Regions from separate parts of the Homo sapiens genome. Here regions 2, 3 and 4 are each reported to be linked to region 1. Evidence: microRNA targets listed by miRTarBase, many of them from high-throughput screens and not tested one by one. Region 1 holds a microRNA gene; each other region holds the end of a gene's coding sequence. Distances are between the middles of the regions.

Region 1 (3,184 bases):
ATTAGTTCTAGCAACAATTGGTAGTACCTGAGAAATAAATCCCTGCTTCAAAAGCACATGCACACGTGCACTCAAACATCTGTAAAATTCATGCCACACACACACACACACACACACACACACACACACACACACACACTGTTGTCTTCACACCTTTATTAAATGACTGGCTTTTGTGGCATTGAGCTTGTGATGTCAGGAATAAGGAATCACATAGTTTCTGATGGAGTAGGGAGGGAAAAGTCAAGAGAAAGACTGAAAGGAGATGTGTGAGAGCTCCATAAACAAACAGCCTTCTTTATAATTTTGTGAGCAATACTCTTCAATTGTTTGGAAGCAGAAACTAGCTGGTTTGCATTTGCAGAGAGCAGACAATTTCTCCCTCAAAAGATTTTAAAAACGTTGTATCAAAAATGAATTAGTCTGTTATTTCAATCTTTCTTTTTTCTTCTTTGTTTGATGAGGAGTTGACTTCTTTTTACCAGGCTCTGTCCTCTCAATTTAGTAAGTCTACTTATGGCATATAGTGCACTGAACTGGTTTATTGAGAGCATTTCTATTATCATAAATAAATGGTCATTCTTAATTCAAACCATTAAACCAGGTTGGCAACCATGTCATTGTAGTTTGTGCATAAAAATATTTTGCTAGGTGAGGACAGCCAATTCTTTATTAGCATGAAAGCTACAAAAGAAAAAAAAAAGATAAGTGACAGGTATTTCCTTAAATGCAAAGCAAAAGTACAAATTCTACACAGTACAAAATGGAGAAGGGATATGAGATGTGAAGAAGCAAACGATAATTTTATTTTACACTGGAGCATAGAGGGAGCTTATTGACAAAGGCCTGGGGTTGTATTTGCATCCTTGCAGTACACTATTTAGTCGTGAAGATTTACTTAGTGGAAAGTCACTAACCAGCTTATTAAAAGTCAAACAATACCTGGAAAAAAATTCATGTATGCCATTGCAATTACATAAGGCCATTTTATTTATAAAATAAAAAATTTATAAAGCAAATAATGAATCAATATAAAAATAAAAGTTTATATTTGCACCGTGTTTTTATTTCTGTTATACCAGTTGATTTTAGTCTAATAAATTTATGAGGAAAATTTAAACAAAAATGTGTTTCCCAAGAACGTTTATATTTGCCTCTACCAAGTGGCCTCTGTGTTTCCCAGTAGGGATGCTGACTCAGCAAAATCAGCATTCATGACTCTAGTTGTCCAATATAGGGAGACAAAATGGCCAATTTAAGTCATTGTGCTTTGTCTTTCTCTCACAGACAGACAGACACACACGCACACACAAACACATGCACACAAAGAAATGATAAGGTTCAATGAAATACTCCATACATTTCCTTCAATTTTACTTTATAATTTTATAATTCTAAGGGTTTTTTTTAATTAAATGATCTTGTCCATATAGGGCACTGGTAAATAAAGTAAAGTCTAGAGAAATCACAAATGCAAGTTGAACTAGAATTTTGTTTAGAGATTTCTAGGGTAATAAGCAGATGAAGTAAATCTTTTCTTGCATCTGTGGCCCCCAAAAGAAATAACTTGTCACTCTAAATTATCTTTGAGACAAAACAAATTTGTCAGCTATAGTTGTCAGAAAACTGTAAAGTGATGTACTTTAAAATAAAAATTTTAACACCTTTTTCCTCCCTAATCTCCAGATATATTGGAAGTCATGAAATTAAAATGCAGTGTTAGGATAATATTTGCCTTTTTGGTAAATATAATTTATAATCTTAAATTCAAGTGTTAAATATTGAGTCTTTCCTTGGCTTTAGGATTAAACAATAGGTGATGCCAAAATATGAGAAAAGCATCTTCCAAGGTACAATTGCATATCTGTTACATACCTGCATACATAGAAAAGAGAAAGATAGGGGTAAGAGAATTAAACAAAAAAGTAGCAGTCACATATACATATCTGTATATATGACATAGATCTGCATATTTGACTACTACTTTTTCATTTATTTTAATTTAAATACATATTTATGTACACATATGTGCGCATACATGTATCTCTCTGTGTGTATCTATATATTTGTTTTGGAAAATATCAGGTTCAATCAGTTTAACCAGGTTTACTTTTCACAGGACATTTCAGAGTATTTAAAAACTATACTGCATTAAAAATCTCCAGGAAATGATGTATGTGAAGAGCTCCAGAGTGTTGTTTCTCATAGAAAACTTTTTTCATAGAGAAGTTTTTTCATAGAAACATTTTTTTTTAATTTCCAATTTTTATTTTAAGCAGGGGCACATGTGCAGGATGTGCATGTTTGTCACATAGATAAACTTGTGCCAGGGTGGTTTGTTGCACAGATCATCCTGTCACCCAGGTATTAAGCCCAGCATCCATTAGCTACTCTTTCTGATCCTCTCCTTCCTCCCACCACTCACTCTCCAACAGGCTCCAATGTGTGTTGTTCCCTCCCATGTGTCCATGTGTTTTCATCATTTATTTCCCACTTACAAGTGAGAACATGCAATCTTTGGTTTTGTGTTCCTGCATTAGTTTGCTAAGGATAATGGCCTCTGCCTCCATCCATGTTCCTGTGAACTCCTCTCTAACTCATTCTATGAGGCCAGCATCATCTTGATACCAAAACCTGACAGAGATGCCATAAAAACAGAAACCTTTAAAGCCAATGTCCTTGATGAACATAGATACAAAAATCCTCAACAAAATACTGGCAAACTGAATCCAGCAGCACACCAAAAACCTTATGCACCACGATCAAATAGTCTTCATCCCCAGGATGCAAGGCTGATTCAACATACGCAAATCAATCATTGTGATTCATCACATAAACAGAACTAAAGACACAAACCACATTATAATATCAATAGACACAGAAACTTTTAAGATGTCAATCTTCCAGAGTCAGTGACTGTCTCTATTACTTGGGATTTGTAGTTAATTTGTTTCTATTCTTACTAATTTAGAAAACACAATTTCAAGTTCTTGCAAAACAAAACACCTGATGTTTTTCAATAATTTTGTTTGTACTATGATGACATGCAAGAAACAAAAAATAACAATTTTCAAAAACCCATTTAAATGCTTTCATTTGCTAGAGTTTACTTCTCTGGAAATTTCATCCTTCAAGACAAATGAGAACCAGAGAATAAAGAATAAAGTTCTCCAAGTAGTCAAAT
Region 2 (3,184 bases), not on the chromosome of region 1:
GGTTAGAAGTCATCCCTTTGTTTTTAAAATCTGCCTACCTTCCACTCATTCTTCAGCCCCCTTGAAACACAAGGTCTGCACTTCAAGGATTTGAAATCATTTCACCAGTCTTTTTTTTTTTTTTTTCAGTTCCTTCATCTCCCTATTTGACAGTTTCTTGACATTTCACCTTAAAATACAGTTTGTCAGTGTCCCTCATAAAAGTATAGTTGGTACTAGAACAAGATGTGATAATCTGCATACAGGCTATCAATCAATGAATTGTGAAACTGTTATCTCACCTGAGTTAGGTACTAAATTTCTGTTCATTTGAGATAATGTAAAGCAACTAATTTTTTGTGGTTTTATTCCTCCTCTCATTAAATAGCCTTCTTCCTTAAATAATCAGCTAGTATCTGTGGACTGCAAGAAAGGAACCAGAGTCCAGGTGGACAGTTCCCAGAGAATGCTAAGAATTGCAGAACCAGATGCAAGATTCAGTGGCTTCTACAGCATGCAAAAACAGAACCATCTACAGGCAGACAATTTCTACCAAACAGTGTGAAGAAAGGCAACTAGGATGAGGTTTCAAAAGACGGAAGACGACTAAATCTGCTCTAAAAAGTAAACTAGAATTTGTGCACTTGCTTAGTGGATTGTATTGGATTGTGACTTGATGTACAGCGCTAAGACCTTACTGGGATGGGCTCTGTCTACAGCAATGTGCAGAACAAGCATTCCCACTTTTCCTCAAGATAACTGACCAAGTGTTTTCTTAGAACCAAAGTTTTTAAAGTTGCTAAGATATATTTGCCTGTAAGATAGCTGTAGAGATATTTGGGGTGGGGACAGTGAGTTTGGATGGGGAAATGGGTGGGAGGGTGGTGTTGGGAAGAAAAATTGGTCAGCTTGGCTCGGGGAGAAACCTGGTAACATAAAAGCAGTTCAGTGGCCCAGAGGTTATTTTTTTCCTATTGCTCTGAAGACTGCACTGGTTGCTGCAAAGCTCAGGCCTGAATGAGCAGGAAACAAAAAAGGCCTTGCGACCCAGCTGCCATAACCACCTTAGAACTACCAGACGAGCACATCAGAACCCTTTGACAGCCATCCCAGGTCTAAAGCCACAAGTTTCTTTTCTATACAGTCACAACTGCAGTAGGCAGTGAGGAAGCCAGAGAAATGCGATAGCGGCATTTCTCTAAAGCGGGTTATTAAGGATATATACAGTTACACTTTTTGCTGCTTTTATTTTCTTCCAAGCCAATCAATCAGCCAGTTCCTAGCAGAGTCAGCACATGAACAAGATCTAAGTCATTTCTTGATGTGAGCACTGGAGCTTTTTTTTTTTTACAACGTGACAGGAAGAGGAGGGAGAGGGTGACGAACACCAGGCATTTCCAGGGGCTATATTTCACTGTTTGTTGTTGCTTTGTTCTGTTATATTGTTGGTTGTTCATAGTTTTTGTTGAAGCTCTAGCTTAAGAAGAAACTTTTTTTAAAAAGACTGTTTGGGGATTCTTTTTCCTTATTATATACTGATTCTACAAAATAGAAACTACTTCATTTTAATTGTATATTATTCAAGCACCTTTGTTGAAGCTCAAAAAAAATGATGCCTCTTTAAACTTTAGCAATTATAGGAGTATTTATGTAACTATCTTATGCTTCAAAAAACAAAAGTATTTGTGTGCATGTGTATATAATATATATATATACATATATATTTATACACATACAATTTATGTTTTCCTGTTGAATGTATTTTTATGAGATTTTAACCAGAACAAAGGCAGATAAACAGGCATTCCATAGCAGTGCTTTTGATCACTTACAAATTTTTTGAATAACACAAAATCTCATTCTACCTGCAGTTTAATTGGAAAGATGTGTGTGTGAGAGTATGTATGTGTGTGTGTGTGTGTGTGTGTGTGCGCGCGCACGCACGCCTTGAGCAGTCAGCATTGCACCTGCTATGGAGAAGGGTATTCCTTTATTAAAATCTTCCTCATTTGGATTTGCTTTCAGTTGGTTTTCAATTTGCTCACTGGCCAGAGACATTGATGGCAGTTCTTATCTGCATCACTAATCAGCTCCTGGATTTTTTTTTTTTTTTTTTCAAACAATGGTTTGAAACAACTACTGGAATATTGTCCACAATAAGCTGGAAGTTTGTTGTAGTATGCCTCAAATATAACTGACTGTATACTATAGTGGTAACTTTTCAAACAGCCCTTAGCACTTTTATACTAATTAACCCATTTGTGCATTGAGTTTTCTTTTAAAAATGCTTGTTGTGAAAGACACAGATACCCAGTATGCTTAACGTGAAAAGAAAATGTGTTCTGTTTTGTAAAGGAACTTTCAAGTATTGTTGTAAATACTTGGACAGAGGTTGCTGAACTTTAAAAAAAATTAATTTATTATTATAATGACCTAATTTATTAATCTGAAGATTAACCATTTTTTTGTCTTAGAATATCAAAAAGAAAAAGAAAAAGGTGTTCTAGCTGTTTGCATCAAAGGAAAAAAAGATTTATTATCAAGGGGCAATATTTTTATCTTTTCCAAAATAAATTTGTTAATGATACATTACAAAAATAGATTGACATCAGCCTGATTAGTATAAATTTTGTTGGTAATTAATCCATTCCTGGCATAAAAAGTCTTTATCAAAAAAAATTGTAGATGCTTGCTTTTTGTTTTTTCAATCATGGCCATATTATGAAAATACTAACAGGATATAGGACAAGGTGTAAATTTTTTTATTATTATTTTAAAGATATGATTTATCCTGAGTGCTGTATCTATTACTCTTTTACTTTGGTTCCTGTTGTGCTCTTGTAAAAGAAAAATATAATTTCCTGAAGAATAAAATAGATATATGGCACTTGGAGTGCATCATAGTTCTACAGTTTGTTTTTGTTTTCTTCAAAAAAGCTGTAAGAGAATTATCTGCAACTTGATTCTTGGCAGGAAATAAACATTTTGAGTTGAAATCACACAGTGTAACTTGCAAAAAGATTCCATCTCTGAGATCCGAAAGACTTTTAAGGTTATCAGTCCAATGAACCCCTGGTGTAACAAGAAGTCCCGTGCTTTTGTCATTAGGCGGGTCTTTCCCAAGGTATCCTTGCAAAAAGAAAAGTGTCTCCCAGAGTACAGAGAATAGCGATGCTGTTTTTAGGGAGACAAGAAACCTACCTGC
Region 3 (3,184 bases), not on the chromosome of region 1:
CCACTGCATTCTAGCTTGGGTGACAGAGTAAGACCCTGTCTCAACAAACAAACATCTGATGCAAATAAAGCATTTGTTAAATATTATTTTGTATACTTACCTATTAATCTGAAATACTATATGAAAAAATTTTAAATGTGAAACATAAGCAATATTGCCTTTAACATTTACAGTAGGTTAAACATCTATTCAACTGACCTCTGTTCACTAAAACATTAGTAATGCTCATCTTTTTTATAAATAATTCTCTACAACCTAACACCTAGTAAGTAAAGCTTTTATTGCTTCTCTCCTGGAAATTATCCTATAAATGGGTTAACCTTGTAATGTTGATTCAAAAGCACAAAGGGAAAAGGCAATAGAAGTCCTTTTAAGATCTACTTTAATCTCAATACTTTTAAGTTTTAAATTTTGATCTCATTAACCTTATGAATGTCAACCAACAGAAAAATAAAACACACCAAAAGATCCAGAACTCTTTAAGGATTGTAAAGGGACAAGCTTGAAAGCCTGACGCCAATCCTCTCTTTGTCCAAAACCACCACCCTAACGGCTCCAGCCCCATGAATTCCTAGTTTAAGAATCTCTATATCAGATGCTATCAAAAGTTAGTAATCGTAGCTAACATTTATAGAGTGCCTACTAAATGCGGAACACTGTTCTAAGGGCTTTACATTTGTTAATTCACTTTTAAATCATAAACACACTGAGATCAGGAAAGTGGTTTAACTATTCTTAGTTTCAGTTCCCCGTAGTACAGTACAGTAAGATATTCTGAGAGACCATATTCACATAACTTTTACTACAGTATGGTTTTAATTGTGCCACTTCATTATTAGTCCTTGTTAATCTCTTACTGTGCTCAATTGATAAACTTTATTATAGGTGCATGTATGGATAGGAAAAAAGACAGTTCACATAGGGCTTGGTACTACACTTGGTTTCAGGCATCCCAGGGGGTCTTGAAACATATCCCCAGTAAACAGGAGGGAACTACTTACTTTATTTCCGACTTCCACATAAGCAAACTGAGGCACACAGAGGGCAATTTGCCTACAGTTAAACAGCTAGTAAGTGGTGTAGACAAGATTCAAATCTAGGCAGTTCGGTTGCAGAGCACACACTCTTAAGCAGGAATCTTTGCTAGTTAATTAGACAATTAATGAGAAAAGGTATATCAGGAAAACAATCTAAGAGTTGCAAATAAGTATTTTCTAAATGAGGTCGGAAGAAAAAAGGATAGAACCATAGTCTCCAAAGCATTTCTGTCTGTTTTATTCCTTGCCAAACATTAAAACTGTGATTCTATTTCCTGCTTTGAAAATCAGTTCTGTTTTGCACTGCTCAATGCCTTTAAGATGAAGGTTTCTTTGTAATATTAACAATCAGTGCACTCTTTCTTTCAACTCCTTTATTAAATTGGTTGCAAAAAAGATATACATTCTTATATTGACAATTCTTGTCATGAATAAAAGCATCAAAAATAAGGCAACAGCAAGATGTGCTTCACATATAAACAATCATGTTGTAAGAATAAGAAACCTGAATCCCTGTACAACAAAAAGATTAGGAAGCAAAATGTGAATAAGCTTGTATTCAGAATATACCTATATGTGTGTGCAAAGACAATACACTCATCATATACCTCACTTAGGTTCCTTTATGATGCATAATTCCTTAATCATTCATTTGTGAAACAAGAATGAATATTAAGAAACATGAAATCCAAATTGCACTTATTTTCACAATATCAATGCTAAACTCAAAATAGCAACTTCATTGACTCTCAATGGTAAATTTCAAACATGGAAAGCAATCTTAATTTTTTTAACCCTTTGACTAGGGTCTGTAAAAAACGGTGGATTATTTTACTGTACTTACAAAGAGGCTGGGTCTCAGCCTGCACTTAAACAGCATGAGCAACAAAGGACAGGAAACAAATATCACTAAGAGTAATGCCCATACATATAAAGATATCTAGTTGAGCCACGTTCTACTTACATAGCAAGCCTATTAAACCACTAGCATAACAGATCATATCTCATGAAACAGAATTACTAAATTAACTACACATCTCTCAGAAATTTCCAAATCCCTGCTCCCAACACAATTTTAGTACACCTATTAAGTACCACGGGTCATTTAGAAAAACAGAAAAAAATATACACCTAGTCTTTGCAATTAAAAAAAAATCATAACATAAACAATGTTAGATATAAATTTTGAACTCAATATGTTTTTTCCTACATATTTATGTAATCAAGGCTCTTTAAGCAAAGACAGGTGGTAGGTATATGATCTGTACAAACTTACAGTAGTGTATATTCCAAATAAAGGTTTTTCTTCCTACTATGGTATGACAATATAACTGTTTTCTGAATGAAGATACATGTTAAGGCTTAAGGTGTAAACACTTTGGAAGGCAAACAGCTTAGTGAAAAAAATTATGGTTCATTTAAAAATGTGTATCATTTCATAATAGACCCCTGAACTTTCAAATTTACATGTGAGAATACATTTACATCTTAACTTTCTAGGAAAGGCACAGGCTTTATGTAAAAAAGCAGCAAAGTTTTAAACCCACCAATATATTGACAAAGCCATTACTTTTATTAGAAACAAATAATGCTTCTCAAGGTGTTGGCAACATGTCATAGTATCAACATATACTTCATACAGTGTATTTCTCCCTTTAATTATATTCCGGTAGGAGGTGGAATACCTCCTTGGCTATGAGGGGCAGATGTATTTGATGGACTGTGTAGGCTGGTCTCCTTGTACACAAACCAAGCATTTCCTCCCCAGAGTATCATATTTAGAAAGCCAAATATCTATGAAAGAGAAAAAGAAATATGAAAATCAAATACCTACTTATAAAAATTCATGCCCTACTTAAAAATCTCACTTTTTCTTTAAATATTTAACATTTTTAGGAAGTACGCCATTATTTCACTTAAAGTTTAATACTACACACAATGAGAAATAAGGAAGACTACACTTCAATGTACAAAATGTGGTTATATAATGACTTATTCCCAATGAAATAAGGCTAAATCTCTAACATATAAAATCATGGCTAAGAGATTTACTCTTCCAAATACTTTTCACTTTTCTCCTATTTAGAATGATTATCAACTGCTTGTGTAACTTTTCCCATTTACTTATCACCCCCTCCTACCATCTC
Region 4 (3,184 bases), 76 Mb from region 1:
TCTCTGCCCCGCCGCCCTGCGCCCCCAGTCAGGTCAGGACCCCCAGTGCTTGTAAGATGTCCACATGGGGATGTTGAGTGGGGTGGGGCCAAGAGCACCTGGGGCACTGTGCTTGTGGGGGCAGCTGGGGGCATCCAGGAGCAGAGGACTTGCCAAACTCTGGGACTGACGTCCAGCTGTCAGCCAGAGGACCCCAGAAGAGAGTGGGAAACAGGCTGCGGGGATGTGAGGAAGGTCCCCAGGGGAGAGCGGAAACAGGCTGTGGGGATGTGAGGAAGGCCCCCAGGGGAGAGCGGAAACAGGCTGAGGCCAGCGGAGTGGTCACTGCATCCCGGCCAGCTGTGACGCAGCAGGTGGGTGGAGTAGGGCTTGGGGGCATCTTGGTCTTCAAGGTCCACCCAGATACCAGCAGCCCATGAGGCCTGGGCCAACTCACTCTGCAGCCCCGGATGGGGGACAGGGAGAGAAGTTTGGAAGTCGTGGGTGGCAGAGCCTTCCCTGGGCCTGAGGGCCTTGTGGATCCCCCAGAACTCAGGGTCTAGGTCCCTGCTGGACACTTGGAGCCCGCCCCACTCCTCAGCCTCCGGGACTTTGCCCTTTTCCAGAGCTCCTCATCTGCAGGATGGAGCCAGGGCCCTAAGGAGGCCCAGGTGTGCCTCCGAACAGGCACAGCTCAGCCCCAAGGGGCTGCCCACCTTGTAGGGCCCAGTGTGCTGGCAGGACCTCGAGACACCACCAGGCCAGGGCCCTTACTCACCGGGAGAGTTCAGGACCAAGACGGTGTGGTTTGTGGCCTGGGGCCACACAGGGGACCAGAAAGCAATCTCCACGGGCGGTGAGGGGCACTTGTACTTTTATCACGGACAACGTGCCCCCATCCACATCCACAAATCAGTGCTGTCCAGGCCAAACCCAGTAGTCCCTGTCCAGCTGCTGCCCTCCGAGGGCCTCGCCCAGGCTTCTGTCACATTGTCACTCGCCAGGACGATGTACAGCAGCTGTTCCCCTCTTACCTGACGTTTAAAAGCACATGCCAGTTGTAAACACTTACAACAAGGGAGAAACGAGCAAGGGGAAAGTGAAACTCGCTGGGGACGCAGCCGCAGGACCACGCTTCTGTTCCTGTTGGGGTGCCCGGGTGGGTTTCACAGGTCGCCTCCAGTTCTGCAGGCTGAACCCGTCTGCCTGGGCACCCCGCACTGCCTGCCTCCTGGGCACTCTGGGGCGACATGGAAGGAATTGCACTTGTCTCAGGTTTCATGCACGCAGTCAGGAGTCTGCACCAAGAACGGTCCATCAACGCGGGAGTCCTCCCCGGGAGGGGCTTCCGTGCCTCCCATTCTGGGCACTTCCAGACCTTCTGCAAGAAGTGCTGTCCTTGAGTCATTGTTTTGTCCCGAGGCTGCTGCGAGCAGGGGGACAGGTGAGCACGTGTTGGAGGGTGGGGACCTGCGGGACAGCTTCAGTCCAGGCACAGCCGCAGGTCCCGGCTGCCCTGCTTTCCCTGGCCCAAGAAGAGCAGCCCTCAGCAAGCTGTGGGTACAGTCCCGGCTCACGCACAGCCTAGAGCGCACTGCAGGGCCCCAGCATCCTCGCCTTCATGTTCACCTTTGTTCCCTCCTGCTTTCCAGCTTTGGAGTTCTTGTTAAGAGGGACTTGAACCACAACGCTATAAACACACCTGCATTCCCTGTTTTCTTTTGTACACACAAAGCTTACAACCTTTACTGTTTCCAACTGGAAAACCAGTTTTTCCAACCCCTTTTAAAAAACAAATGATCCTTTTATCGTACGCCGAAAGCCCTACCCATGACAAGCCCACTTCTGCATTTGACTCTGTTCACTGACCCTTCGTTTCCTTCCTAAACCGACTCTTTCGGTAACTTTCAGTGAAGAGGTGGCTTTAATAAATATATTCTCAGGGCCGGGTGCAGTGGCTCATGCCTGTAATCCCAGCACTTTGGGAGGCCGAGGCGGGCGGATCACAGGGTCAGGAGTTTGAGACCAGCCTGGCTAACATGGTGAAACCCCATTTCTACTAAAAATAGAAAAAATTAGCCGGGCGTGGTGGCGGGTGTCTGTAATCCCAGCTACTCGGGAGGCTGAGGCTGGAGAATCGCTTGAACCCAGGAGGCGGAGGTTGCAGTGAGCCGAGATTGCGTCATTGCACTCCAGCCTGGGTGACAGAGCAACACTCCGTCTCAAAAAAAAAAAAAAAAAAAAAAATATATATATATATACACACACATATGTATATATATATTTATATATACGTATATGTGTATTTACATATATACGTACATATATATATTTATATATATTCTCCAGTAATCTCCAGAACCTTTGTGTGGGTCAGGGTGAGAGGTGCCACCAGGATGTAAACAGAACAACTGAGTCCTCCAGGTAGGAGCCAGGTGCGATCAGCAAGACCGCGAGTGTGGGAGTCAGAGGTGCCTCCTCAAAATGCATCCCCCGTCTGTGGCATAGCACACAGGCCCCGGGGCCCCGTGGACAGGGCTGGTCCCAGCGAAGGCCGGCCTGGGGTAGGGGGGTGGGACGCCAGAGGCTGCCCGCAGCAGGAAGCTCCCGCAGATGCCAGGGCCTCTTGTGCCACTTGGCAGAGACCCCAGAAGGAGCCAGGGGGCAGCATCAGAGCCTGGGGCCCGGACAGGGGTGCCCAAGGGCACAGCAGCTGCAGGCCATTGGCAAGGCCAGAAGACGTTGAGTAGAAAGCTGGGGGCGCATGGAGAGACCCCGAGAAGGGGCTGTGCAGCTGGGGGTCCTGCATTTGCCGTTTGTGTTTCATGCGGCGATTCTGAAACCAGGTTTTTATCTGTAGGAAAAGCAAGATCAGAACAGGGGTGAGACTAGGCCACCAGCCCACCCTTGCCCACCCCTGCCCACCCCAGCCTGCCCGGCCCACCTCACCTGGACCTCTGAGAGCTGCATCTCCCTGGCCAGCCTCTTCCGCTCCAGAGGGCTCAGGTACTGGTGGTGCTGGAAGACGCCCTCCAAGGTGCGGACCTGCTCCATGGTGAAGGCTGTGCGGACACGGGGGGCCCGCAAGGTATTTGGCTCCTTACTCAACCCTGACATAGAGGGTAAGGGCATTTGGCTCAACATGCCACCCCATGGGGCAAGCTCGTGCCCACGGGTAACAGGTGAAGACAGCCATGCTGGGGGC

What was found. The annotated mature microRNA hsa-miR-3924 reads AUAUGUAUAUGUGACUGCUACU and lies in region 1 at 1,925-1,946, opposite strand. An mRNA with a match to its seed (bases 2 to 7 or 8) in the 3' UTR can be bound and repressed. Matches are read on the target gene's strand: a 7mer-m8 pairs with bases 2 to 8, a 7mer-A1 pairs with bases 2 to 7 and ends in A, and an 8mer does both.
Region 2: miRTarBase lists CRIM1 as a target of hsa-miR-3924. Seed matches in the 3' UTR shown: 7mer-m8 at 1,692-1,698.
Region 3: the mRNA of SYPL1 is a reported target of hsa-miR-3924. Seed matches in the 3' UTR shown: 7mer-A1 at 2,552-2,558 and 7mer-A1 at 2,252-2,258.
Region 4: the mRNA of VENTX is a reported target of hsa-miR-3924. Seed matches in the 3' UTR shown: 7mer-m8 at 2,249-2,255.

Annotation. Positions count from the first base shown.
Region 1 is chr10:57,302,565-57,305,748 of GRCh38, forward strand. It overlaps MIR3924 (microRNA 3924), which reads right to left and starts at 1,995; the gene lies at 1,915-1,995.
Region 2 is chr2:36,548,158-36,551,341 of GRCh38, forward strand. CRIM1 (cysteine rich transmembrane BMP regulator 1) reads left to right here. Exons shown (of 17, transcript NM_016441.3): 17 at 368-2,978. The coding sequence ends at 544. Among named protein-coding and RNA genes, the nearest start is that of FEZ2, 48 kb to the right of the region's middle.
Region 3 is chr7:106,089,109-106,092,292 of GRCh38, forward strand. It overlaps SYPL1 (synaptophysin like 1), which reads right to left. Exons shown (of 5, transcript NM_182715.4): 5 at 1,397-2,831. The coding sequence ends at 2,697. Among named protein-coding and RNA genes, the nearest start is that of SYPL1, 22 kb to the right of the region's middle.
Region 4 is chr10:133,239,581-133,242,764 of GRCh38, reverse strand. VENTX (VENT homeobox) reads right to left here. Exons shown (of 3, transcript NM_014468.4): 2 at 2,929-3,089; 3 at 837-2,833. The coding sequence ends at 2,459. Among named protein-coding and RNA genes, the nearest start is that of VENTX, 3.3 kb to the right of the region's middle.